Homo sapiens: one gene and its partners. The protein of the gene in region 1 purifies or fractionates together with the protein of each later gene. This does not show direct contact. Each region holds a gene or a part of one and is shown in the gene's direction. Other genes may lie near its edges.

Region 1 (3,500 bases):
TAATGATAAGGAAAATCTGTTTTACAGGTGCAAAGAAGAAGAAAAATGCCAAGCCTTTAAGTTTTAAGGTCGGAGTAGGCAAAGTTATCAGAGGAGTAAGTAAAGAATGCCAATGAATCAGTAGATATTCTGGCATATGCTGCTTCTGGTATGGTGCTGTAAAGAATTAGGTTTGGGGATATAATACAAAGGAAACAGACTTTGGAGTCTGACAGATTGGGTATAATCATTGTTAGCTGATCTTGCACAAGTTATCTCGGTCTCAGTTTCGCTACATATAAAATGAGGACAGTACTGCCTACCTCAAGGTTTTTAGAAGATTAAATGAGCATAACTTGAAGTACCTAATACAGTAGGGGCTTAAATATTAGTCCCTTCCATGTGTACCCATTTTATTATTTTTCTTCATAAAGTAAGTCTTTGTCAGAATGTTTGGCCCTCTAAATTTAAGGTTCCTGTAAAATGTCTTATAACTGTTGTACCATTTACATATAATTTGCAAAGGTAAAATATCTGTCCCACTGAAGTATTCACAGAAGCAGAGTTTGTTTCTGCAGCCTTTTCACCTCATACAACATAGGCTGCAATACCAGAAAATCATTCAAACATGAGCATGCTTTAACCTACACTTATATGTGAGAGATAACAGAAAGAAACTTTGAGAAAAGAGGAAGTTAGGCTTGACCCGTACTGACCATTATACTGTACAAAAGAAGATAAAAGAGTAGGGCAGACTGTCACCTTCTATGAATCAGGTTTTCATGCTAAGGCCTGCCCATTGTGCCCATTGTTTGTTTTAAATTGTTATTCTCAGAACATCAGACATCAATAACTGAAATGCCTATTTAAATGCAGTTATAGGAACCTTCAATATATTACTCTCTGTACAATCAGTAGGTCCTAAGATATGGTTCAGACAATCATATACAGAATATAAAACATCTTAAAACTAAAGGTTTAGTTGAGCATAACTTATAATTGTTACCTGCCCCAGCCAGGCGTGGTGGCTCATGCCTGTAATTGCAGCAATTTGGGAGGCCGAGGTGGGTGGATCACAAGGTCGGTCAGGAGATCGAGACCATACTGGCTAACACTGTGAAACCCGTCTCTACTAAAAATACAAAAAATTATCTGGGCATGGTGGCACTTGCCTGTAGTCCCAGCTACTTGGGAGGCTGAGGCAGGAGAATTGCTTGAACCTGGGAGGTGGAGGTTGTAGTGAGCTGAGATCACGCCACTGCACTCCAGCCTGGGCAACAGAGCAAGACTCCATCTCAAAAAAAAAAAAAAAATTGTTACCTGCCCGTACCAAGTTGATAGCAAGTATATTATCAAATTGGGCCATTTTTCTATTTCTGTAACTTATTTGCATACTGGTAAATTTCTTCTAGTCTACCGTATTCTTTTTTTTTGAGACGGAGTTTTGCTCTTGTTGTCCAGGCTGGAGTACAATGGTGCAATCTCGGCTTACTGCAACCTCTGTCTCCTGAGTTCAAGCGATTCTCCTGCCTCAGCCTCCCGAATAGCTGGGATTACAGGCATGCGCCACCACACCTAATTTTGCATTCCTAGTAGAGATGGGGTTTCATCATGTTGGTCAGGCTGGTCTTGAGTGCTGACCTCAAGTGATCGCCCTCTTCATCTTCAGCCTCCCAAAGTGCTGGGATTACAGGCACGAGCCACCTTGCCCGGCTAGTCTACCATATTCTTATTTTCCAAATGTGACCACCCTAACTTTGTCCCTTGTGCTTTATATGATTGTTGCATTTCAATACAGCATATAATATTAGGAATATTATCCCTTTGGTGATGTGGATTTAACTGTTTGTGGAAACTAGCTTTAAGATCCAAATTTGGAAAATATGGAGAGGCCAACCCAGAAGACTTTTATTGTTTCTTTGAAAAGTTAGTTTTACCTTTTGCAAAAGATCTTAGTGCCGTAACATTTTAAAAATTGTATTTCCAAAATTAGCTGGGCATGCCTGTAATCCCAACTACTAGGGAGGCTGAGGCAGGAGAATCGGTTAAACCCGGGAGGCAGAGGCTGCAGTGAGCCAAGATCACGCTATTGCACTCCAGCCAGGGCAACAAGAGCGAAACTCCATCTCAAAAGAAAAAAAGAAAAAAATGTATTTTATGTGCCAACGTGACTCCACTATTACAATCTGGTAATCTTAAAACAATTTTACAGTGAGTACTTGCCAGTGTATTCCAATAAAAATAAACTCGTTTGTCCTGTGATGTAAAAGTGTTGCAGGTTTATGATGGTGCTAATAACTAACTGGTTTTCATAATGTATGGCATGTTACAGTTTACAAAAAGTTTTTTTTTTGTTTTTTGTTTGTTTGTTTGAGAAGGAGTCTCACTCTGTTGCCCAGACTGGAGTGCAGTGGCTCAATCCTGGCTCACTGCAACCTCCACCTTCTGGGTTCAAGTGATTCCCCTGCCTCAGCCTCCCGAGTAGCTGGGATTACAGGCACCCACCACCGCACCCAGCTAATTTTTTTATTTTTAGTAGAAGATGGGGTTTCACTATGTTAGCTAGGCTGGTCTCAAACTCCTGACCTTAAGTGATCTGCCCACCTCGGCCTCCCAAAGTGCTGGGATTATAGGTATGAGCCCCAAAAGGTTCTTTTCACATTAAAAAAGCCCTGCTTAAAATACCCTTTTTTTTCTATTGAAGAAATGGAAGACAAAGATTTAGGGACTCACTGAAGTACATTATCTTAGAATATAGTGAAATCTATAGTAATAGATTCTGTGTTTGTTTTAACATACAATCTTGTCTTGACTGTCCTGGTATTGCATGTGCTTTTTGCAAAATACCATTAGTTTTTATTTTGTTCTTGCCTTTAGTGGGATGAAGCTCTCTTGACTATGAGTAAAGGAGAAAAGGCTCGACTGGAGATTGAACCAGAATGGGCTTACGGAAAGAAAGGACAGCCTGATGCCAAGTATCCTTTTTTCCCCTTCATAATTAAAGTTGAAAAAAAAAAAACGTCTAGATCACCTTTGAGGATGTGAAAGATGCTGTCTAGGCAAACTTCTGGATCAAGAATCCTGTCCAGACTAGTCTTCCTGATCTTTAGATGCTTATGTGTCAGCACCTCCAATAGGCAATAGTATTTTCTATTGATATAAAGTTCAAACCTCAGCTAGAATTTTTGTTTCTCTTATTCAAATTCTTAACTTTCAAGACCTTAACTGTGAAGTTTAAGCTTAAACAGCAATTCTTAATGTTTTTAAGAGTTTAAGAAAAGTTACCATGCCCAGTACAAACTGTAGCAAACTACGATGCAAATATGGCTCATGGTAATTTTATGGTACAGTATAATTTCAGGCAATTAAATTCAAAGCTTAGAAATGGAATAGATGTGGGAGATTACCAGTTGTGAACTGAAGGAGACCACAGAATCAACAGTGTTAGTGTAAGCATTTATTATTACTACTAATGACAATACTCACTGATAAGTCCAGTTTGTGAACATTTAAAAAAAAAA
Region 2 (3,500 bases), on another chromosome or scaffold:
TTTTAACTTTTTAATTTGAAAAATCTTTGAATAGGTTAAGGACAAATTGCAAACCTTAAGCTTTTTTTTTTTTTTTTTTTGAGACAGAGTCTCGCTCTCTTGCCCAGGCTGGAGTGCAGTGACGCGATCCTGGCTCACTGCAAGCTCTGCCTCCCGGGTTCAAGTGATTCTCCTGCCTCAGCCTCCCGAGTAGCTGGGACCACAGGCGACCACCACCACGCCCGGCTAATTTTTTGTATTTTTGGTAGAGACAGGGTTTCACTTTGTTAGCCAGGCTGGTCTCAGTCTCCTGACCTGGTGATCCATCCGCCTCGGCCTGCCAAAGTGCTGGGATGACAGGCTGAGCCGCCGCGCCCGGCCTGCCAAAGTGCTGGGATGACAGGCTGAGCCGCCGCGCTCGGCCATCCTTAAGCTTTTTGTAAGAAACCCAGCATGTGATGGGCACCCGCTGCCAGTCCTGAATTCAGCCTAGGCCACCCCTCCTGAGGACTGTGCCGCTGAAGGGAGGGGCAACAGGCGTCGCATTAATGCCAGGGCGGCCTCCTTCCAGGGACCTGTCCATGATCCTGTGTGACCCCTTCGCCATCAACACGCTGGCACTGAGCACAGTCAGGCACCTGCAGGAGCTGGTCGGCCAGGAGACACTGCCCAGGGTGAGTGTGGGCTTGGCCAGCAGCTGTCGGGGCCATGCGGCCACTCCGCTGGCTGCTCTGGGTGGTCAGGGTGTGGACAGCAGCGGCCAGGTGGAGGCAGCTGTTGGGGCCCTGTGGCCGCCCTGCTGGCTGCTCTGGTGGTCGGGGATGTGGACTGCAGTGGCCCAGGTAGAGGCGTGTGCTTCCCCGCTGTGAGACTGCGTTTCACCCCGTGTGTGGGGCTGGTGATCGCAGTCGTGTGGTCCTGGCCATGGGCACCAGAGATCCTGCTGAGTAACGAGTAGGGTCAGAGGAGCTCCATGGCCAGGACACAGCTGCCTGGGAGAGGCGCTGAGCCCGTCCTCCCTACAGGACAGCCCCGACCTCCTGCTGCTGCTCCGGCTGCTGGCGCTGGGCCAGGGAGCCTGGGACATGATCGACAGCCAGGTCTTCAAGGAGCCCAAGATGGTAACGAGCCTCCTGTGGGGGCTGCCAGTTTCCTACGAGGGGTTGTGGGCTGGAAGTGGGGTGGAGGGGGAGGCGCTAGCAAGGTGATTGTGGAGGCCCCTTTGGTCCCAAAGCTTCCTTCCTGGAGCTGCCCACCTTCCTTTTGGGAAAATGCCCACCAGGGAGGTTCTGGGGTGTCTCCGTGGACCCTGGCTGGTTCTGGGGTATCTCCATGGCCCGTGGCTGGTTCTGGGGTGTCTCCGTGGACCGTGGCTTGTTCTGGGGGTGTCTCCATGGACCATGGCTGGCCACAGGTGGTGACTACTCCATGTGGGTCCAGACCTAGAAGGGGGTTTGAGGAGATGGCCTGGGTGGGGGACTCGGGAGGTGGGAAGAGGGACCTGGGGACCTGGAGAGGAGGGAGGGTCGGTGAGGTATCTGGGGGAGTGGGAGGGCCAGGGGCAGGGTGTGTGTCACGTCAGGGTGGGGTGGGGCAGGGCCCGGGCCCGCGCCCGCTCATGGCCTCCCCTCCTCGTAGGAGGTAGAGCTCATCACCAGGTTCCTCCCGATGCTCATGTCCTTCCTGGTGGATGACTACACTTTCAATGTGGATCAGAAACTTCCGGCTGAGGAGAAAGCCCCAGTCTCATATCCAAACACACTTCCCGAAAGCTTCACTAAGTACGGGCTGTAGGGCCATGGTGCAGGGGTGGCCGTGGCGCAGGGATGGCACTGTTGCCCAGGGGGCTGCCTCAGGGCTGGGCAGGGGTCGGTGTGGGGCTGAGGTGGGGCTGAGGTGGGGCTGAGGTGGGGCTGATGGCGCCCCGGGCGCAGGTTTCTGCAGGAGCAGCGCATGGCCTGCGAGGTGGGGCTGTACTACGTCCTGCACATCACCAAGCAGAGGAACAAGAACGCGCTCCTCCGCCTGCTGCCCGGGCTGGGTAAGTCCTGACGGGCGGTGCCTGGCTGTGTCTTCCCTGCGGCAGCTGCCGTATGCAGTCCTGCCCAGGGTGCGGGCCCCAGGGCCCCCAGGAGCTGCCTTGTCTCCCCAGCCCACCTCCAACTTTGCTAGCTTTGTTTTCACCTTTTTTTTTTTTTTTTTTTTGAGATGGAGTCTTGCTCTGTCGCCCAGGCTGGAGTGCAGTGGTGCAACCTCAGCTCACTGCAGCCTCTGCCTCCTAGGTTCAAGTGATTTCTCGTGCCTCACCCTCCTGAGTAGCTGGGATTACAGGCGCGTGCCACCGTGCCAGGCTAATTTTTGTATTTTTAGTAGAGACGGGGTTTCTCCATGTTGGTTGGGCTGGTCTCGAACTCCTGACTTCATGATCCGCCCGCCTCGGCCTCCCAAAGTGTTGGGATGACAGGTGTGAGCCACCACTCCCAGCCTCGTTTTCACTTTTACTTTTGTTTGTAGTTTATTTTACTAGGAAAGGGAGAGGGAGTTCAACTTTGTGCTTTCCCACAAAAAGGTGATGTAAGAGCTGTCTTTATTTCATCCTAACTGGCGAGGGGCTTGGGACCCCTCAGGTGCTCAGAGAATGGAGCAAAGGGGAGGGAGAGAGATCCCCTGCCCCAGTGCCCCACCCCAGGTGGTGACAGGCCCACTTCCTCCTGGGGGCCTTGACGGGGGAGGGGTTGTTGCAAGCCAGGAAGAAGAGGAAGGGTCCAAATGGGCACCTTCAAGAGTAGAGCTGCAGGTCCCCTGGGAGATGGGGCCTCTTTAGCCTGCTGTGGGTCCCATGGGAGATGGGGCCTCTTTAGCCTTGCGGTACCCACTGTGACACAGACCCTGGGCTCTTCCTTGCTGACTCAGGCCTTGTCTGGGGTTTGCTGTCTTAGTCCACGTTATGCTGCTCTAACAGAGACTTGAGACTGAGTAGTGTAGAAAGGGCAGGGACGGCCGGGCACGGTGGCTCAGGCCTGTAATCCCAGTGCTTTGGGAGGCTGAGGCGGGCGGATCACGAGGTCAGGAGTTCGAGACCAGTCTGGCCAACATGGTGAAACCCTGTCTCTACTAAAAAAATACAAAAATTGGTTGGGCATGGTGGTGGGTGCCTGTAATCTCAGCTACTTGGGAGGCTGAAGCAGGAGAATCCCTTGAACCTGGGAGGTGGAGGTTGCAGTGAGTGGAGATTGCACTATTGCACTCCAGCCCAGGCGACAGAGCGAGACTCCGTCTCAAAAAAACAAAGAGCAGGGACTTCTCCCAGTTCTGCGGGCTGGGATGGGAAGTCCGAGGTCAAGGGGCCTGCATCTGGCTGGGGCTTTTTGCTGTGTCATCCCATGGTGGAAGGCAGAGGGCAAGAGAGCACGGGCAGGGGAGACAGACAGACACAGACAGAGATGAGAGACAGAGACACACAGACCAAGATGAGAGACAAAGATGAGAGACACAGAGACAGAGATGAGACACAGAGAGAT
Region 3 (3,500 bases), on another chromosome or scaffold:
CCAGCTCATCTTTTGACTCTTAAGGGTCCAGTGCTCTTTTCATAATAACATTTGATGTGGTGGATGTTATATAATACCAAAATGAAATTAAATTACACTTTGAGGCAATGCTTGCTAGAATCTACATGACCATATCTTTACATTGTGAATGTTATGCAGGAGCCTTCACTTTGTGCCTTGGGTATAGTAGGTGTTAAGTGCTGCACTTTAGATGTTGATGTGCTGGGCCCAGGAGTAATAATAATTATAGTAAAGTTGCAACATTATTTGGCAATTTGATGTTGAATAGATTGTTTCTTCTGAACGTTACATTTTAACACATTTGTTCTTAAAATTACATCATTGTAAGAGAAAGTACTTTCAGTTTAAATCAGTAAAGATCGGTCAGGTGCAGTGGCTCATGCCTCTAATCTCAGCACTTTGGGAGGCCCAGGCAGGAGGCCTGAGGCCAGGAGTTTGAGACCAGCCTGGGCAGCATAGTGAAACCCCATCTCTATAAAAAATTAATTAAAAGAATTAGCCAGGCGGCCAGGTGCAGTGGCTCATACCTGTAATCCCAGCACTTTGGGAGGCCAAGGTGGGCAGATCACCTGAGGTTGGGAGTTCGAGACCAGCCTGACCAATGTGGAGAAACCCTGTCTCTACTAAAAATACAAAATTAGCTGGGCAGCTGGGCGTGGTGGTGCATGCCTATAATCCCAGCTCTTTGGGAGGCTGAGGCAGGAGAATCACTTGAACCTGGGAGGCAGAGGTTGTGGTGAGCTGAGATCGTGCCACTGCACTTCAGCCTGGGCAACAAGAGAGAAACTCCGTCTCAAAAAAAAAAAAAAAGCCAGGCATGGTGGTACCCACCTGTAGTCCCAGCTGCTCCAGAGGTTGGGGCAGGAGGATTGCTTTAGTGCAGGAGGTTGAGGCTGCAGTGAGCCATGATCTTACCACTGCACTTCCAGACTGGGCAATGGAGCAAGACTCTGTCTCTAAATAAACAATAAATAAATAGGATGGGCACGTGGCTCACACCTGTAATCCCAGCACTTTGGGAGGCCGACTCCGGTGGATCACCTGAGGTCAGGAGTTTGGGACCAGCCTGGCCAACATGGTGAAACCCCATCTCTACTAAAAATACAAAATTAGCCAGGCATGGTGGCCCATGCCTGTGATCCCAGCTACTCGGGAGGCTGAGGCAGGAGAATCGCTTGAACTTGGGAGGTGGAGGTTGCAGTGAGCCGAGATCACGGCATTGCACTCCAGCCTGGCAACAAGAGTGAAATTCCATCTCCAAAAATAAATACATAAATAAAGATTTATGACCTTCTACTGTGCCTCTGTTCTGTGGTAGTTTCTGTAAAGAGATTCTTTTCAAAGTCAAATAGGTTTGTTTATTACCTTGAGTTTGAAAAAAGGAATTAACAGTTTGGTTTGTTTTTATAATTGTGTTCTGTAAATCTAGGTTCAGATACAAGCCTACGTTTGTGTTTATAGTGATATCTTTAAAAATTGGAGGAATAAGATGAGCCGATGGCTGAATTATTGGAGGAGTCTTAAGTCATTTCATACTTTTCAGAAGCCTAACATGCTTGTGTTTCTGCTGTTAATTCTAGTCAGGCATCTTTTAATATTTTCTTTTTTCTCTCTTTTTTTTTTTTTTTTTTTGAGACAGGATCTCACTCTGTCACACAGGTTGGAGTGCAGTGGTCCAATCTCAATCTCGGCTCACTGCAACACCTGCCTCCCAGGCTCAAATGATCCTCCCACTTCAGCTTCCCAAGTAGCTGGAACCATAGGCACAAGCCACCACCCCTGGCTAATTTTTTGTATTTTTGGTAGAGATGGGGTCTCGCCATGTTGCCCAGGCTGGTCTCGAACTCCTGAGCTCATGTGATCCACACACCTCAGCCTCCCAAAGTGCTGGGATTACAGATGTGAGCCACCTCACCCAGCCTAATATTTTCAAAGAATAAAAATTCACACATCAGAAGTCCACTTGGTAAACTCTTACTTCTTCAGAGTCAGCTCAAGCATCACTTTCTATAAAAACTTCTCTGTGTTTTCAATGAAAACTAGGTGTTCCTTTTATTGTATGCCCACTGTATCTTGGATATTTTTCTGCTGTGGCACTAATGACATATATTGTGATTTACTGAATTTGTCTTCTCCACTTAATTGTGAATAACTCAAGGGCAAAGCCCCTGCATTCCTATCCTCCCACTTTTACCAAGGATAGAACTGAGAATACATATTGGTAGACATAATGTTTATCTGCAGCTAAGCTTTTCTTACTGTGATTGCTAGAGTTAGGAATTATGCATTTGACATAGTGGGTATCAGTAACCTAAATAAAAATAGGCTAGTAGTATGTGTGCTTTGATTTTTGTTACATTGTTTTTTTTCTGTTAATTGTTTTTTCTGTACTTGCAGTTTGTAAAAATGGAATTTCAAGCAGTAGTGATGGCAGTAGGTGGAGGATCTCGGATGACAGACCTAACTTCCAGCATTCCCAAACCTCTGCTTCCAGTTGGGAACAAACCTTTAATTTGGTACCCATTGAACCTGCTTGAGCGTGTTGGATTTGAAGGTGAGCTATGACAAAGTGAGCTGTGAACTCATAAAACTTTTAGGAGATTTGATCCCCATGATTTGTCAGCGTTATGAGAATGAGAGAGGGTGACTAGAACTCGTTGGCTGAAGACTGCCTTCTTTAAGGAATGTAGGAGTACTCTATTGCTGTGTGAAAAAGGTTGAGAGGATAGCACTAAGTGTTGTTGTTATGGAGCTGATGTCCACAATGATCCAAGACGAACTCTGTAAAGATATCAGAAAGAGCAGATTGAGACTCTTAAATGCCTCATAGTCAGTACTTACTGAGAATCTATTATGTACCAGGTAATATTTATATTATCTGATATTCAATATATATATGTTTTAAATTTTGTTTTGATGTAAGTACCAGGTTATATATTAAACACGGAGGTACAGAATTGAAAAGACAGCTCAGGCCCTGACTTCCAGAACTTTAAAGTCTAGTGATCCTCTCTACTTTTTGCTTGGGTAGCTAGGTAGATAGTTATGCCATTAAGTAGGAAAAGGAATAGGAGACAAGGAACAGGTGTTTTTTTTTTGAGACAGAGTCTCACGCTGCCACCCAGGCTGGAGTGCAGTGGCACGATCTTGGCTCACTACAACCTCCGCCAGGGTTCAACCTCTCCCGGGTTCAAGTGATTCTCCTGCCTCAGCTTCCTGTGTAGCTGGGACTACAGGCATTTTCCACCATGCCCGGCTAAGTTTTTGTATTTTTAGTAGAGACAGGGTTTCACCATGTTAGCTAGAATGGTCTCGATCTCAGGACCTCGTGATCTGCCCACCTCGGCCTCCCAAAGTGCTGGGATTACAGGCATGAGCCACCGTGCCTGGCCAGGAAAAGGTTTTAATGAATTTTATTTTCATTAAAATAATGAGTTCAGCTTTGGTCACATTGAGTTTGAGGTGTCCTATATTTAGAT
Region 4 (3,500 bases), on another chromosome or scaffold:
TCCTGCAAAGCAAATCACTGGTGAGTGGTACACTGTTAAACACCAGTATTATCCAGATTGGGTACCAATGTATTATGGAGTGAAATAAATGTATTTGACAATTACAAGTGAAGAATTAAACTGAACAAAATATCTCCAATGGTCTCATGAACTCTATCAGGTAAACAATAATATGAACACTTAACAGCTGCAAAGCCCTCTGGTACAACGCAGGGTAGGGTAAGAAGAAAGTCAGGAGAACAGTACAAAATGTTAGGAGAAGGAAAAGGATTAAATTGCCACATTGACCTGAAAAGAACTTCTGAAAGGATGGCATTTGGGTCAGGAGTTGAAGGAATAATAGCTTTTTGGTTGTGGAGAAGTTGAATTTCACTATGAGGGTTGGGACCATTCACGTAAATATTGATCAATAGGTACAGATCCCCTGTTATATACCAGGGACTAGACAAAATGCTCAAGATACAGCGTGGAACAGATGACTCTCCTCATAGTGTTTAGTTGTAGAAGAGACTGAAAAGGTGAAAGTCATTGGTAATCCTACTACCCAGTAAAGACCCAATGAATATTTGTTCCGTTTAAAAAAAAAATACACACGTGTATGTAGTTTTCCCCACAAAATTGGGAACATGCTGTGTAATTACACTTTTGTGTTCTACTGGGTTTTTTAAAATACTAAATTACAAGCATTTCCCCATCTAGAAAAAGTACTGATAATATGTAAGATGTCCCAATTTGATAAAATAATTTTAAGATATATAATCTACTGCTTCTAGACCTGTTCTAGAAGTTATTTGTTAAATTATTCTAATTTATAGTCACCTGCTAAATTTAAGCATCTAATTACATGTCCAGTGTAAAATTTAAGAAGTGTGTGCGTGTCTACTGACAGCAAGACAGTTTCCTAAGTGCTCTGTAGGATATGCAGTTTACACCTGATAAGAATAGTAAGAGAAACTTGTCATATTTTGTTATAGTTGAATATTTTCTTTTAATAGATTCTACCCTTCTGAAAGGTGGAGTGTGTATCCTATTATTTGTTCTCAAATTTACCTGTGATGTTTCCCACCTTGAAGCCATGCCTCCTTTCTTCTTTTTTTTTAAATTTTTTATTTTACTTATTATTATTATTATTATTATTATTATTATTTATTATTATTTTGAGACAGAGTCTCATTCTGTTGCCGAGGCTGGAGTGCAGTGGTGTGATTTCAGCTCACTACAACCTCTGCCTCCTGGGCTCAAGTGATCTTCCTGCCTCATCCTCCTGAAGAACTGGGACTGCAGGCCTGTGACACCAAGCCCAGCTAATTTTTTGTATTTTTTGTAGAGACGGGGTTTCGCTATGTTGCCCAGGCTGGTCTTGAACACCTGGACTCGAGCAATCTACCTGCCTCGCCCTCCCAAAGCGCTGGGATTACAGGCGTGAGCCACCCCACCTGGCCTCCTTTCTTTTTACCAGTGTGCAACGTTTAAGTTGGAAAGAGACAACTTGTTAATAGTGTTATTAGACCAGTCCCTAGAGGCTTTTAAAACTGTTATGCAGAATGTACATGTATCTATGAATGTTTTCTGTATTGCCCTCTCCAAAGAGGATGTCTTAGAAGACTAATGCAAGTTTAGGTATAAAATGTGTTAGCAATTTTATTTGTATAGAAGTTTTAATAACATTAATCACATGTTGTGTGATTTTTTGTTTCATCTTATTTTGCGGTTTTTGTTTTATCCAAGTCTATAACCTTTAAGACATCAACATGTTATTTAAATTGTTATGAATTAGTCTAGAATTTGGTTTTCAACCTCTTTTTCTACTCTAACATACCTGCTGGTAGCAGTGGCGCACCATGGCAACCACAGAACTTTGGAGCAATGGTTGTCAAATGTGTCCCAGGACCAGCAGTGGCAGCAGCATCTGGGAACTTGTTAGAAATGCAAATTCTGAGGCTCAGGCTGGACGCGGTGGCTCACGCTTGTAATCCCAGCACTTTGGGAGGCCGAGGCAGGTGGATCACCTGAGGTGAGGAGTTCAAGACCAGCCTGACCAACATGGTGAAACCCCATCTCTATTAAAAATACAAAAATTAGCGGGTCATGGTGCAGGCCTGCCTGTAATCCCAGCTACTTGGGAGGCTGAGGCAAGAGAATCACTTGAACCCTGGAGGCAGAGGTTGCAGTGAGCTGAGATTGCGTCCACTGCACTCCAGCCTGGGCAACAGGGTGAAACTCTGTCTCAAAAAAAAAAAAAATAGTTCTCAGGCTCTACCCTATACCTACTGAATCAGGGACTCTGGGATAGAGCCCAGCAATCTGTATTTTAATAAACCCTCTAGGTGCTGCAAATGCATGCCTGAATTTGACAGCCGCTACTATAGAAGATGAGTGTTTGTAACGCATTACATTGCAACAAGTAATTTCTGAAGAATCTTAGCTATTTGGTTCTAGTAAATTATTTTTTTAAATTTATTTTTGTTTGTTTTTGAGACGGAGTCTTGCTCTGTCACCCAGCCTGGAGTGCAGTGGCACGATCTCAGCTCACTGCAACCTCCGCCTCTCAGGTTCAAGCAATTCTCCTGCCTCAGCCTCCTGAGTGGCTGGGATTACAGGCACCCACCACCACGCCTGGCTAATTTTTTGTTATTTTTGGTGGAGATGGGGTTTCACCATGTTGGCCAGGCTGGTCTCGAACTTCTGACCTCAGGTGATCCACCCATCTCGGCCTCCCAAAGTGCTAGGATTATAGGCATGAGCTACTGCACCCAGCTGGTTCTAGTAAATTATTAGTAGTAGTTAAAGGGCTAGATATGCACCAACACGCCTGGCTAATTTTTAAATTTTTCTGTAGAGGCGGGATCTTGCTATGTTGCCCAGGCTGGTCTCAAATATTTGGCTTCAAGCACTCCTCCCACCTTAGCCCCTCAAGTTGCTGAGATAACAGTTATGGGCCATTGTGCCCAGAAGTTGGTTGAATGTGTAACCACTATCAGTGATTAATCTTTTAGGATACAGATAGAGCCCTTTAGAATCTAGAGAACGTTATAGCACATATATACACACGCTAAGTGCATAATATTTTTATACCATTTCAGGGATTTTGTTGAAGTTGAGATTAGCTGATGGACTCAAGAACCTCTTAACAACCTTAGACTACTTTATGATTTCCTCTTGCCTACAAAGAACCTCTAGCATTTTTGGCTAGGGGAGTGGAGTGAACAGAGGGGAGAAGTGGGGATTTGATAGAGCAAGAGTAGGTACTCAGTTGGCTTCTTCTGTTGGTTTGAATGAAGTGATGGAAGCCATGCCTATGAAATTTATAATAACCTGGAATTTGGAGTAGCAGCAAAAATGTTTAAGTTGGTATCAAATCCCAAAAAGATCCTGTCAGGCAATCATGATGAGTCACATTAGAAAGATGATGGATGTAAAATCCTGCCATTTGGTCCAGAAAGCCAGTGCACAAGTAGAGGAGGGGACATAGCTTAGCCACAAAGTGATGGAGCTTCCTC
Region 5 (3,500 bases), on another chromosome or scaffold:
TTGAAGTGTTCATAGATGAAATGATGTGCCATCTGAGCTTGGCTTCTTTTTTTTTTGAGATGGAGTCTCGCTCTGTCGCCCAGGCTGGAGTGCAGTGGCGTGATCTCGGCTCACTGCAAGCTCCGCCTCCCGGGTTCACACCATTCTCCTGCCTCAGCCTCCTGAGTAGCTGGGACTACAGGCACCCGCCACCATGCCTGGCTAATTTTCGTATTTTTAGTAGAGACGGAGTTTCACCGTGTTAGCCAGGATGGTCTCGATCTCTTGACCTCGTGATCTGCCCGCCTCGGCCTCCCAAAGTGTTGGGATTACAGGCGTGAGCCACCGTGCCTGGCCTTGAACTTGGCTTCTTAACAACTAAGGTGGAAAGCATGAGAGTACAGACAAATTAAGATTGGCTGAGTATTCATAATGGTGTAGCTCAGTGATGGTTTCATGGACATCTCATATTATTCCCTCTATTTTCTGTGTGTTTGAAATTTTTCGTAATAAAAGAAGGTTAAACTACTCCAATACTTTCCAAACAGTTAATACCAGTTATCCACTTGGAGCCTTCATGTATCAAAGTTAAATATTCTCTGTTCCTCTAAGTGATTGGAATGATTTCTATGTCCAAATATCAAGGTGGCCAACCCAGAGTATGTTCCAGGTGGTCAATGTCCCTCTTAAGTTGCCAAGAACACAGCAAAGTACTGTGCATAAAGTCTGGCTATTTTTTTTTTATGAAGACATTAGGTTGAATTACTTCTCATCCACTTTTGTCTTTCATACACCAAGGTAATCAGTGATCATTGTGGATAAATAGTAAAGGGTTCAACCACCATGTACTTTGGCTGCCGAAAGTGGCAGTCATGTGAACTCTAACCAAATAGGCAGAAAAAGGCATTGTGTCACTTTAATTGGTATCCTTTGAATTGGCTTTAAAATGTATCACTTTTTTTGTCTGCCTTTTCTAAAAAGCAAAGGGAGAAGGAAAGGCTTTTCTGTACTGGTATTATATGACCCCATGTCTAGAAATGACATTGAAAACTATTTTAATAAATTCCTATTTTTAAACCACACAATCAGAATTTACTCAAAAGATCTCTTATTTCTGTTTTCCTTCTTTTTTTTTTTTCTTTTTTACTTTAAGTTCTGGGATACGTGTGCAGAATGTATAGGTTTGTTACATAGGTACACATGTGCCATGGTGGTTTGCTGCACCTATCATCCCATCATCTAGGTTTTAAGCCCCACATGCGTTAGCTGTTTGTCCTAATGCTCTCCCTCCCCTTGCCCCCTACCGCCCGACAGGACACGGTGTGTAATATTCCCCTCCCTGTGTCCATGTGTTCTCATTGTTCAACTCCCACTTATGAGTGAGAACATACAGTGTTTGATTTTCTGTTCCTGTGTTAGTTTGCTGAGGAAGATGGCTTACAGCTTCAACCATGTCCCTGCAAAGGACATGATCTTATTCCTTTTTATGGCTGCATACTATTCCGTCCTTCATTCTGTTCTTTCTTTACTATCTCATTACATAGAAGATTTGAAGTACAAAGGACAGAATCGTGAAACATGCATTTACTTTTATCTCCCTCTGCTCTGAGCTGAATCTATAAGACCAGAGAAGATACCTGCTTAATTATCACAACTTAAAATGAGCTGTGTAGACCTATGTACTAGCCAAAATATCCCTTTTACCTTTTTATCAAGATCTTGAATATTCTATGGGAGATGATTTCCTTTGTCCTAAAGACCCCTTGGCCTTTGAGACTTAGTTCTGATTCGATAGAAGCATGATGGCCTTGACCAGCAGTGTGACCTTGGCAAGAGTCACCTGTCTCCTGGGGTCTGATGTCTCTCATCTAAAGGGGCAAACCCACAAGTGTGCCTCAACACACGTGCTGTTGGCATTTGGGGCAGGAAAATTCTTCAGTGGAGCTGTCCCTCATATTGCAGGATGACTAACATTCGTGGTGTCCTCCCACAAATGCCAGCAGCACTTCCAAGTCATCTCAACAACCCAAACTTCACACATTTCCAAATTGCTCCTTGGGAAAGACACTGCCCATTTGAGTACTGGAAGTTCCCATGTACTTCCAAAATTCTGGATTCTACCACTCTGACCAACCATTACTTGGTAAGGATTAGGTGCTAGCCAGCTAAAGGTAAGGTGTATAGAGATGAGATGCAAATAGAAGACAGAGGTCCCCAAGGGAGATGGTTTCCAGATAAACACCACCTTGGCAGGGGACCCACCAGCACCTTCCCCCTTTTTCTTTATTCTTTTCCACCCTTGCAGAGGAGCATAATATTCTGTCTTCATCAGCTCCGGCTGCTATGACTAAGTACCATAAAATGGGTAGATTATAAACAACAGAAATTTAAAATTCATAGTTCTGAAGGCCGGGAAGTCCGAGATCAAGATGCCCAAGGATTTCGTGTCTGGTGAGGGCCCATTTCCTGGTTCAGTCAAGATGGAAAGAGATGAGAGAGCTCTTCGAAGTCTGTTTTTTATGACAGCACTAAATGCTATTCATGAGGAGAGAGCCCTCTCCAAGGCCCCACCTCGTAATGTCATCGTCCTAGGAAGTAAGGTTCAACATGCACATTTGCGGGGAACATAAACATTCGGTCCATTGCATACCCCACAGCGATGCCAAATTCTTAGCTCACAGAATGACCTGATGAACCAGTAATGAGATAATTCGGAATTTATCAGTCACCTCCCCTAATCACATTTGTCATTCAAAGGGGATACCCAAAGAGAACCATCCTTAATCTAAAGGATGAAATTCAAAGATGAGGAAAAATCTATAAACAAACAACAGTACATGAGGGAAAGGTTTTAGGATGGGAGCCTACCAAACCCCTCTCAAGCCACACTATCCAATCAATAAAGGAAGTCCTGTCCATAAACTATTTGAATGCCTCCCTTCTTATTTCTTATAGACACAAAATGATCATTGCCCTCATTCATTAAATTAGCCTTGTTGGGTTGTTTGCTCGCTCTTGTTTGTTTTGCTAAGATTACTATTCTGGGCCAGGCGCGGTGGCTCACACCTGTAATCCCAGCACTTTGGGAGGCCAAGCCAGGTGGATCATGAGGTCAGGAGATCGAGACCATCCTGGCCAACATGGCGAAACCCAATCTCTACTAAAAATACAAAAAATTAGCCTGGCCTGGTGGCAGACGCCTATAATCCCAGCTACTCAGGGGGCTGAAGCAGGAGAATTGCTTGAACCCAGGAGGTGGAGGTTGCACTGAACTGAGATTGCACCATTGCACTCCAGCCTGGGTGACAGAGCAAGACTCCATCTCGAGGGGAAAAAAAAAAAAGATTACTATTCTGACCAACTGGTTACCTTCTGTCATTTTCTAGGACTGTGGACGGCAAGACATTTAGGAGCTCTATTAAGGAGAAAACTGTGGGCCGAGCTCTTTATGCACAGGCCAGAGCAAAAGGCAAGACGGCTGGCTTGGTGAGGTAAGGCCTGAGTGAGCAAGGCTTGCCCTT
Region 6 (3,500 bases), on another chromosome or scaffold:
GGCTCACACCTATAATCCCAGCACTTTGGAAGGCTGAGGTGGGTGGATCACCTGAGGTCAGGAGTTCGAGACCAGCCTGACCAGTATGGTGACACCCCATCTCTACTAAAAATACAAAAATTAGCTGGTTGTGGTGGCAAGCGCCTATAACCCCAGCTACTTGGGAGACTGAGGTTGGAGAATTGCTTGAACTCAGGAGGCAGAGGTTGCAGTGAGCTGAGATCGTGCCACTACACTTCAGCCTGGGCAATAGAGGGAGATTCCATCTCAAAAAAGAGAGAGAGAGAGAGGGAGGGAGGGAGGGAGGGGGAGAGGGAGGGAGAGAGAGAGAGAAAGGAAAGAGAAAGCTAAATGTGATAAGGGCGAGAGAGAGAGAAAGGGAAAAGAAGGAAAGAAAGGAAAGAAAGTTAAATGTGATAAGGGCTGGCAACACTGGAGGGTCTCTGCCTCTCAAGACTCAGCCTTGTTCACAGTTCAGTCCTGCCTCAGGGGCCTTGGCTGGTGCTGTACCCTGGTCCGGGTTGGCCCTCACCGGCCCCCACCCCGGCTCTGGCTCCTTGCCACCCCCCTCTCACAGTACTGATGTTTAAAACACATACGGGCCCTGGGGGACAGAGCAGGGTCAGGATCCCAGAAACAGCCCTACTTCAGCCCCGGCCCTTATGCTGCCCCACCCCTAGCTGAGTCCTGCCTCAGGACCTTTGCTCCGGATGTACCCTCGTCCACGTTCGCCCTCATTGGCCCTCCTCGAGCTCTGGCTCTCTGTCTGAAAAATAAATGTGGCCGGATGGGTGCAGTGGGTCAAGTCTGTAATCCCAGCACTTTGGGAGGCCGAGGCAGGCGGATCACCTGAGGTCAGGAGTTTGAGACCAGCCTGACCCACATGTTAAAACCCCGTCTCTACTAAAAATTGAAAAAATTAATGGGGCGTGGTGGCGTGTGCCTGTAATCCCAGCTACTCGGGAGGCTGAGGCAGGAGAATTGCTTGAACCCAGGAGGCGGAGGTTGCAGTGAGCCCAGGTTGCACTGTTGCACGCCAGCCTGGGCAACAAGAGCAAAACTCCGTCTCAAAAAAAAAGAAAAGAAAAAGGCCGGGCGCGGTGGCTCACGCCTGTAATCCCAGCACTTTGGGAGGCCGAGGCAGGCGGATCACGAGGTCAGGATATGGAGACTATCCTGGCTTACACGGTGAAACCCTGTCTCTACTAAAAATACAAAAACTTAGCCGGGTGTGGTGGCGGGCACCTGTAGTCCTGGCTACTCGGGAGGCTGAGGCAGGAGAATGGCGTGAACCCGGGAGGAGGAGCGGAGCTTGCAGTGAGCAGAGATTGCACCACTGCCCTCCAGCCTGGGCGACAGAGCGAGACTCCGTCTCACAAAAAAAAGAAGAAAATGGTGGCATCACTCCCAGGGGTGACAGCTGCAAACCAGGCCCTGCGCACGATGGGGCCCTCTGGTTACTGCCTCTCTTAGGCCAGCTGGGGTGGTTTGAGTTTCTCTTTCTTGCCTGGTCCTGACCTGCAGCTCTGCCGTGCGCCTGTTAATCTCCATATGATCCCTGGGTGGGTTCCCAGAGGGGTTCATGTTCCCTGAGGGTCACACGGGGAGGCAGGATTTGACTCCGGGACGGCCTGATTCCCCCACAGGCCAGCGGAGCCTGCACCACCGTGGAGACAACCTGGAGACCCTGGTCCTCCTGAACCCATCAGACAAGTCCCTGTATGATGAGGTAGGGAATGGCTGACGTCCTGGAGGGGGCGGGCTGCTGGGACCCGTGCCTTCTCTGTCTTCCTGTCTCGTGTCCTTGTCTTCATGCTGCCCCAGATCCTCTCAAGACACCCGGCACCACACTTCTTCGCCCACGAAGCCTTCCCTGTGGCTTCAGCCTCCGCTTCTTCCCTCCTCTGGGGTGGGAGCAGAAAAGCCTGGACTTTGGGAGGGAGGGGAGGGTAAGCACTCCCAGCTCAGGGCCCAGGACAGCGTGGGTCTGGAGGTGGGAAGGCCAGAGCAGACAGGTTTTCCTCCTGTGGGTTCCCTCCGGCTAGGCCCCAGGAGTTGTCTGAATCGACTCACTAACATTAACCAGCTTGTGGCCATCTGTACTCTACCAATTATACATCCGGAAGATGAACCAGACAGAGCCCTGGGGCATCCCACTACAGACCTTCTTACAGGTTGATTCCTTGGATCAACTTTTCCCTTTTGTTCCCTTGAGGGGCTCTCAGTCTTTAAGAGACAGAGTGAGACACAGACACCCCCAGCCCTGTGGCATCAGGGCTGGGCTGGAGGGAGAGGTGGACTAGAGAGAGCCCAGAAAGGGCAAGTAGTGCCTTCAGGAGGAAGGGACATCAGAGCTGGGCTTTGTAGGATGAATAGGAGTTTGCTAGGGTTGCTCCAGGGCCCAGCAGGAGACCTGGAGACTGCCTTCGTAGCTAGTTGAGCACTGGGCTGGTCGTGGGGTGAGGACAGGAGAGGGGTGGTTATGTATCGACTCGAGGCTACCCCAAAGAGGACTGCTGGATACGTCACTGCACAGAACGGGTCCTTTAGTGTTCACCCCCTCCCTCAGCTCCGGAACCTTCTGTTGGACCCTGCCTCTCACAAGCTACTGGTGTTGGCTGGGCCCTGCCTGGAGGAGACGGGGGAGCTGCTGCTACAGACAGGGGGCTTCTCGCCTCACCACTTCCTCCAGGTCCTGAAGGACAGAGAGGTAAGCCACCCCTTTGCCATCCCCTGCTTCCCCAGCTCTGAATCCTGACTGGGGTGTATCAGGCTGTGTGGCACCAGCGACCTGCTGTTTTCCATGGCCTGGTCTCCCCATCCTCTGTAGGATGGCAGTGGTGACACATGCCTCCTGGCTGTCTGGGGTCAGTCCCATTGCCCGCGAAAGGGTGTGGTGTGAGCTGAGTTTGTAGGTCAGCAGATGTCCCAAAGTCCTGATGAGGGATGGAGCCAAATGGGTCCTTCCTGGTGCCCGCAGTCTGGGTAGGACACATGGGCAAAATGGCAAACCTCACTTTCACATTGTAGTGGGGCACTTAAAAATGGTGAGAAAAGGTTCAGTAGACAGGTGGGGCGTGGAGAGTCTCCTTGGAGGGAGCTGTGCCCTGGGAGGAGAGAATGGTGAGTGTAAAGGCCCTGGGGCAGGGAGGCATTTGAAGGGGAGGGAGAGACAGGAGGTGAGGCCAGATCAAAGAGCCTTGTGGCGCTGGAGAGGGTTGGGTTTTGGCGGGAGGGCCCTGAGGAGCAGGCCCTGGGGGAAAGGATGAGGGTGTCCTCGCCCAGTTTTCCCACCGGGCTAGGTGTTGCCTGGCTCTAGGTGGTCCCTTACCACTCCTCCTCCATACAGATCCGGGACATCCTGGCCACCACGCCCCCACCTGTGCAGCCGCCCATACTCACCATCACCTGCCCCACCTTCGGTGACTGGGCTCAGCTGGCACCCGCTGTGCCTGGCCTTCAGGGGGCGCTCCGGCTCCAGCTGCGGCTGAACCCCCCGG
Region 7 (3,500 bases), on another chromosome or scaffold:
GGGAAGATGTGTGCCTATAACAGCAGAAAAATATTGAATCAACCTAAATATTCAAACATAGGAAAATGTTAATTAGGACACATCCCTGTGCTGAAGTAGATGGAATAATTTGATGCAAGGTAGTTTTGAAGTGAGACCCAGTCTCAAAAAAAAAAAAGAAAAAATGGAATAAAACTAGGAAAACAAGGTAAAATGAAAATAGTTGTTTTAAAGTAGTATTATGGGTAACATCTTTTCATTGTAATTGTTTTTTGAGATTTAAAAACAAGAAAGAAGACCACTTGATATAAAACCTTACTACAGCCACATTAGAGAAAAACGTGATTGTGTGTGTGGTCAACTGGTGGTAAATGGAGTGGTTTGTCAATAACTCCTTCAAGGAGGTTTAGGTGTGTTACACAGGAAGTATCTGAAGTCATGTCTGTTTTGAATCTTATTTTTGAAAATGATACTTAGATTTAAATAAACGCCATGTTCTTTGTTCAGATGTGGGACCATTTTGTTTTTCCTTCCCTTTCTTTTTTTAAGATGGGGTTTCACTATGTTGCCTAGGCTGGACTTGAACTTTTGGTCTCAAGCGATCCTCCCACCTCAGCCTCCTGAGTAGCTGGTACTACAGGCATGCAGCACTGTGCCTGGCTTTATTTTTTCAAATTAAAAAAAAAAATTGTCATGCTTTGTCAAAAAAAAATTCTGAGGAAAAGACATATTCAGTGAAATGCGCCAAAGTGCAAAAATCAAATGTATGTCTTACTTTTGCATGTGTGTGCCAGCCAGATCAAGATTACAGAACATTTTCTTCACTTCAGAAAGTTTCCTTCAATTGTATATATTAAAAGACAAAATAATACCTAGTGGGCATAGACAAGAACAAGAAGTTTGTAATTTGAAGAAAATGTCTATCTTCTATTTCAGGAATGGGATGGTCTAGTAAGGATAACCTTTGTTAGGAAAAACAAGACACTCTCTGCTGCATTTAAGTAAGTATTACACTAATTTCTAATGTATAAAGGGCCAGTGCTCCAGATACTATGCTAGAATTTGGTCCTTTTCCTGAGCAGCTACCCTAAAGCATAAAGATTATGGGTCCAGACAAACTTCACCTTTTAAACTATCTTTAGAGCTTGGGAGGCTCTAAAGCAAACTTAATGAAGAAAGTTTGCTGGAGTTGAGAGTCAGATCACATTTTTTGGCAAAACAGGAAAACACTCCCAAACTCTGACCATATATCTGCTCTAGTTTTTTGTTGGAAAAATGAGGTGATGATGGACCCCTTCCACACTTGTGAAGGATATGTGTCATGTAATTAACCTGGGAAAATGCAGCTCATCAATTTGGGGTTCAAGGGTAAAAGAGAGGTGAGACACAGTTTTACAGGGCTTGGAGATTTTTTTTTAGGGGATTTTTTGTGGAGAGTCTAGAACTTCTCTAAGAATTTAAGAGGTATTAGGATTTTGCACTTTAAATATATTTAGTGTTTGCTTCATAAGTTTAAATATTCAACAACTTTTAAAATTCCTTAATTTCACCATACAGAATATAGATTTAATTTCATCTAAAATGAAATTATTGCTTAAATGGCTTATGTATTAGTTAAAAAAAAGTTTAAAAAAGTAAGAAATTACTCTGACTTTGGAATAATAACAGTGGCATCACTTCTTTATGCTATAGATCAAGTGCAGTGCAACAACTCTTGGAAAAAAACTACAGAATTCACTGTTCAGTCCATAATATTGTAAGTTAGAAAATGTTCCTGCAGTTTCATTGATTTGTTTTCTTTTAAAATGTCCATTTTTATTCTTGTTGATCTAGCATGAGATTATTTTGTACATTCCATAAGATCCTTAAAAGACAATATATAATGTATAACTAGCACAATTTTGACTTGAATTCTGACAGGTCAGTGCTGCTGTGTATCCTGTGAAACAGATATGAGCAACTTTGATTACTCCACCCTGTCCTCTAACTACTGACAGTTGTTTTTAGCCATAACAAGAATCAGATTCAGCAGTTACAGGTTCCTCAAAGCTGTAGATATGTGTAGCTTGCACAACTTAAAATAATTGTGTAGTTTACTGTCCTCTGAATTGTGACCACGTCTTGTTTCTTGCTCACATAGCAGTTACAAATATAGTTATTACTTTCTTTGTATAGAAATTGAAATAAAGTTCATATGGCTCAATAGCAGATTTCTGGTTGTGAGCCTCATGCGTATCATTTGTGTAACAGTGTGTGCGATGTGATGTTTGCTATCTTTTTAGCTTCCAGTTTAATTAGAACAGAGAGAGAAAGGCCAATTTTCTTTTTATTTTTTATGACTCAGAACCTATATGGTTTAATGTATCACAATACTATCTCCATTTTCTCTTTTATGGGCAAAAAGTCATTAGATAATCTGCCTAAGTATAATAGAAAAATATTAAGCTAGATTAAGAAAAATATTTGGATAAAATATGTGAATTAAGTGTAAAATCCTTTTGGATAAAATATGTGAATTAAGTGTAAAATCCTTAATATTCCCAAGGCTTGGGCAGGTCACCTCTTTGAGAAAAATGAGGTGGTTAAGGTCAAATCTGTAGGAAGAAAATGCATTATTTTGAAAGGAGTAACAATTGCTTTAAAATTTAATTTACAGTTGTAATTATTTGTGAAGTCTGAAACTAATAACTATTTCAGAATTTTAAAGAAGAAAATGGCTAATATAGACAGGATTACTAATTCAAGGTATTCCAAGTTTTTGTTAATAAAGATCAGCCACTTTTAATTAGAGATCCAAGTCTTAATGTAAAAATCAGGCTTTCCAAAGTCTCATTAACAGATATATTAAAGGTGACTATTTTATGACTTACTGAACTAAAAAAAAGAGTCAAGGTGACCTCATTAAAGATATGTCGTTCATTTATTCTGAATCTTATATTGATAGATAATACCAGAAGATTTCAGCATAGCAGATAAAATACAGCAAATCCTAACCAGCACAGGTTTTAGTGACAAACGGGCCCGTTCCATGGACATAGATGACTTCATCAGGTAATTACATTTTTGTTTTCCTAAGTGTTTACATTTCTTTACTGTGACACCTTCAGATTGGAGATTTTAAAGGCTTTTAAGCGGTATAAGGTGCTACCTGGGAGAGTTATTGCATAGCACTTCCATGGCATGGAATAGTATTTGGTGTAGAAGATGGAGGCTAGTTAGCTGCAGCAGAATGAACATTTTCTTTAAGAACAGTAGTAAAGAACAGTCCGAGCCAGAAGATTGCCTTTGTGTTAATGTGGTGTGCAGGTTCCAATGTGGTGTGCAGGTTCCTCCCTTCCTGCTCCTTCCCCAACTCTCATTCATAGTCTTAGTCTTAATAGCTTATCCCTCCAAAATAGTCCATAAGGTAGAAAAATCATAATACATGTAACTGGATCTGATTTTTAAAATTTCCTTACTGGGAATAGCTGTTGTTAAATCAATCTTAAGCATACAATAATGCCAGTTAGAATCCTACCTGG

The links.
Region 2: the proteins of FKBP3 (region 1) and NELFB fractionate together in Homo sapiens (co-fractionation; one large-scale study listed by BioGRID). This does not show direct contact.
Region 3: the proteins of FKBP3 (region 1) and EIF2B3 fractionate together in Homo sapiens (co-fractionation; one large-scale study listed by BioGRID). This does not show direct contact.
Region 4: the proteins of FKBP3 (region 1) and MYH10 fractionate together in Homo sapiens (co-fractionation; one large-scale study listed by BioGRID). This does not show direct contact.
Region 5: the proteins of FKBP3 (region 1) and ITIH2 fractionate together in Homo sapiens (co-fractionation; one large-scale study listed by BioGRID). This does not show direct contact.
Region 6: the proteins of FKBP3 (region 1) and MAP1S fractionate together in Homo sapiens (co-fractionation; one large-scale study listed by BioGRID). This does not show direct contact.
Region 7: the proteins of FKBP3 (region 1) and DIMT1 fractionate together in Homo sapiens (co-fractionation; one large-scale study listed by BioGRID). This does not show direct contact.

What each region holds. Positions count from the first base shown.
Region 1 is NC_000014.9:45,117,482-45,120,981, reverse strand, and holds part of FKBP3 (peptidyl-prolyl cis-trans isomerase FKBP3), read left to right. Parts: intron 1-27; coding exon 28-95; intron 96-2,856; coding exon 2,857-2,954; intron 2,955-3,500. UniProt on the Homo sapiens protein: FK506- and rapamycin-binding proteins (FKBPs) constitute a family of receptors for the two immunosuppressants which inhibit T-cell proliferation by arresting two distinct cytoplasmic signal transmission pathways. PPIases accelerate the folding of proteins.
Region 2 is NC_000009.12:137,265,327-137,268,826, forward strand, and holds part of NELFB (negative elongation factor B), read left to right. Parts: intron 1-550; coding exon 551-653; intron 654-1,004; coding exon 1,005-1,100; intron 1,101-1,617; coding exon 1,618-1,760; intron 1,761-1,913; coding exon 1,914-2,020; intron 2,021-3,500. UniProt on the Homo sapiens protein: Essential component of the NELF complex, a complex that negatively regulates the elongation of transcription by RNA polymerase II.
Region 3 is NC_000001.11:44,980,096-44,983,595, reverse strand, and holds part of EIF2B3 (translation initiation factor eIF2B subunit gamma), read left to right. Parts: intron 1-2,418; 5' UTR 2,419-2,427; coding exon 2,428-2,575; intron 2,576-3,500. UniProt on the Homo sapiens protein: Acts as a component of the translation initiation factor 2B (eIF2B) complex, which catalyzes the exchange of GDP for GTP on the eukaryotic initiation factor 2 (eIF2) complex gamma subunit.
Region 4 is NC_000017.11:8,624,226-8,627,725, reverse strand, and holds part of MYH10 (myosin-10), read left to right. Parts: intron 1-3,500. UniProt on the Homo sapiens protein: Cellular myosin that appears to play a role in cytokinesis, cell shape, and specialized functions such as secretion and capping. Involved with LARP6 in the stabilization of type I collagen mRNAs for CO1A1 and CO1A2.
Region 5 is NC_000010.11:7,709,816-7,713,315, forward strand, and holds part of ITIH2 (inter-alpha-trypsin inhibitor heavy chain H2 precursor), read left to right. Parts: intron 1-3,365; coding exon 3,366-3,470; intron 3,471-3,500. UniProt on the Homo sapiens protein: May act as a carrier of hyaluronan in serum or as a binding protein between hyaluronan and other matrix protein, including those on cell surfaces in tissues to regulate the localization, synthesis and degradation of hyaluronan which are essential to cells undergoing biological processes.
Region 6 is NC_000019.10:17,722,480-17,725,979, forward strand, and holds part of MAP1S (microtubule-associated protein 1S), read left to right. Parts: intron 1-1,646; coding exon 1,647-1,729; intron 1,730-2,569; coding exon 2,570-2,710; intron 2,711-3,349; coding exon 3,350-3,500. UniProt on the Homo sapiens protein: Microtubule-associated protein that mediates aggregation of mitochondria resulting in cell death and genomic destruction (MAGD). Plays a role in anchoring the microtubule organizing center to the centrosomes. Binds to DNA. Plays a role in apoptosis.
Region 7 is NC_000005.10:62,390,406-62,393,905, reverse strand, and holds part of DIMT1 (dimethyladenosine transferase), read left to right. Parts: intron 1-915; coding exon 916-980; intron 981-1,671; coding exon 1,672-1,735; intron 1,736-1,899; coding exon of another isoform or gene 1,900-1,935; exon of another isoform or gene 1,936-2,187; intron 2,188-2,880; exon of another isoform or gene 2,881-2,923; coding exon 2,924-3,030; exon of another isoform or gene 3,031-3,500. UniProt on the Homo sapiens protein: Specifically dimethylates two adjacent adenosines in the loop of a conserved hairpin near the 3'-end of 18S rRNA in the 40S particle.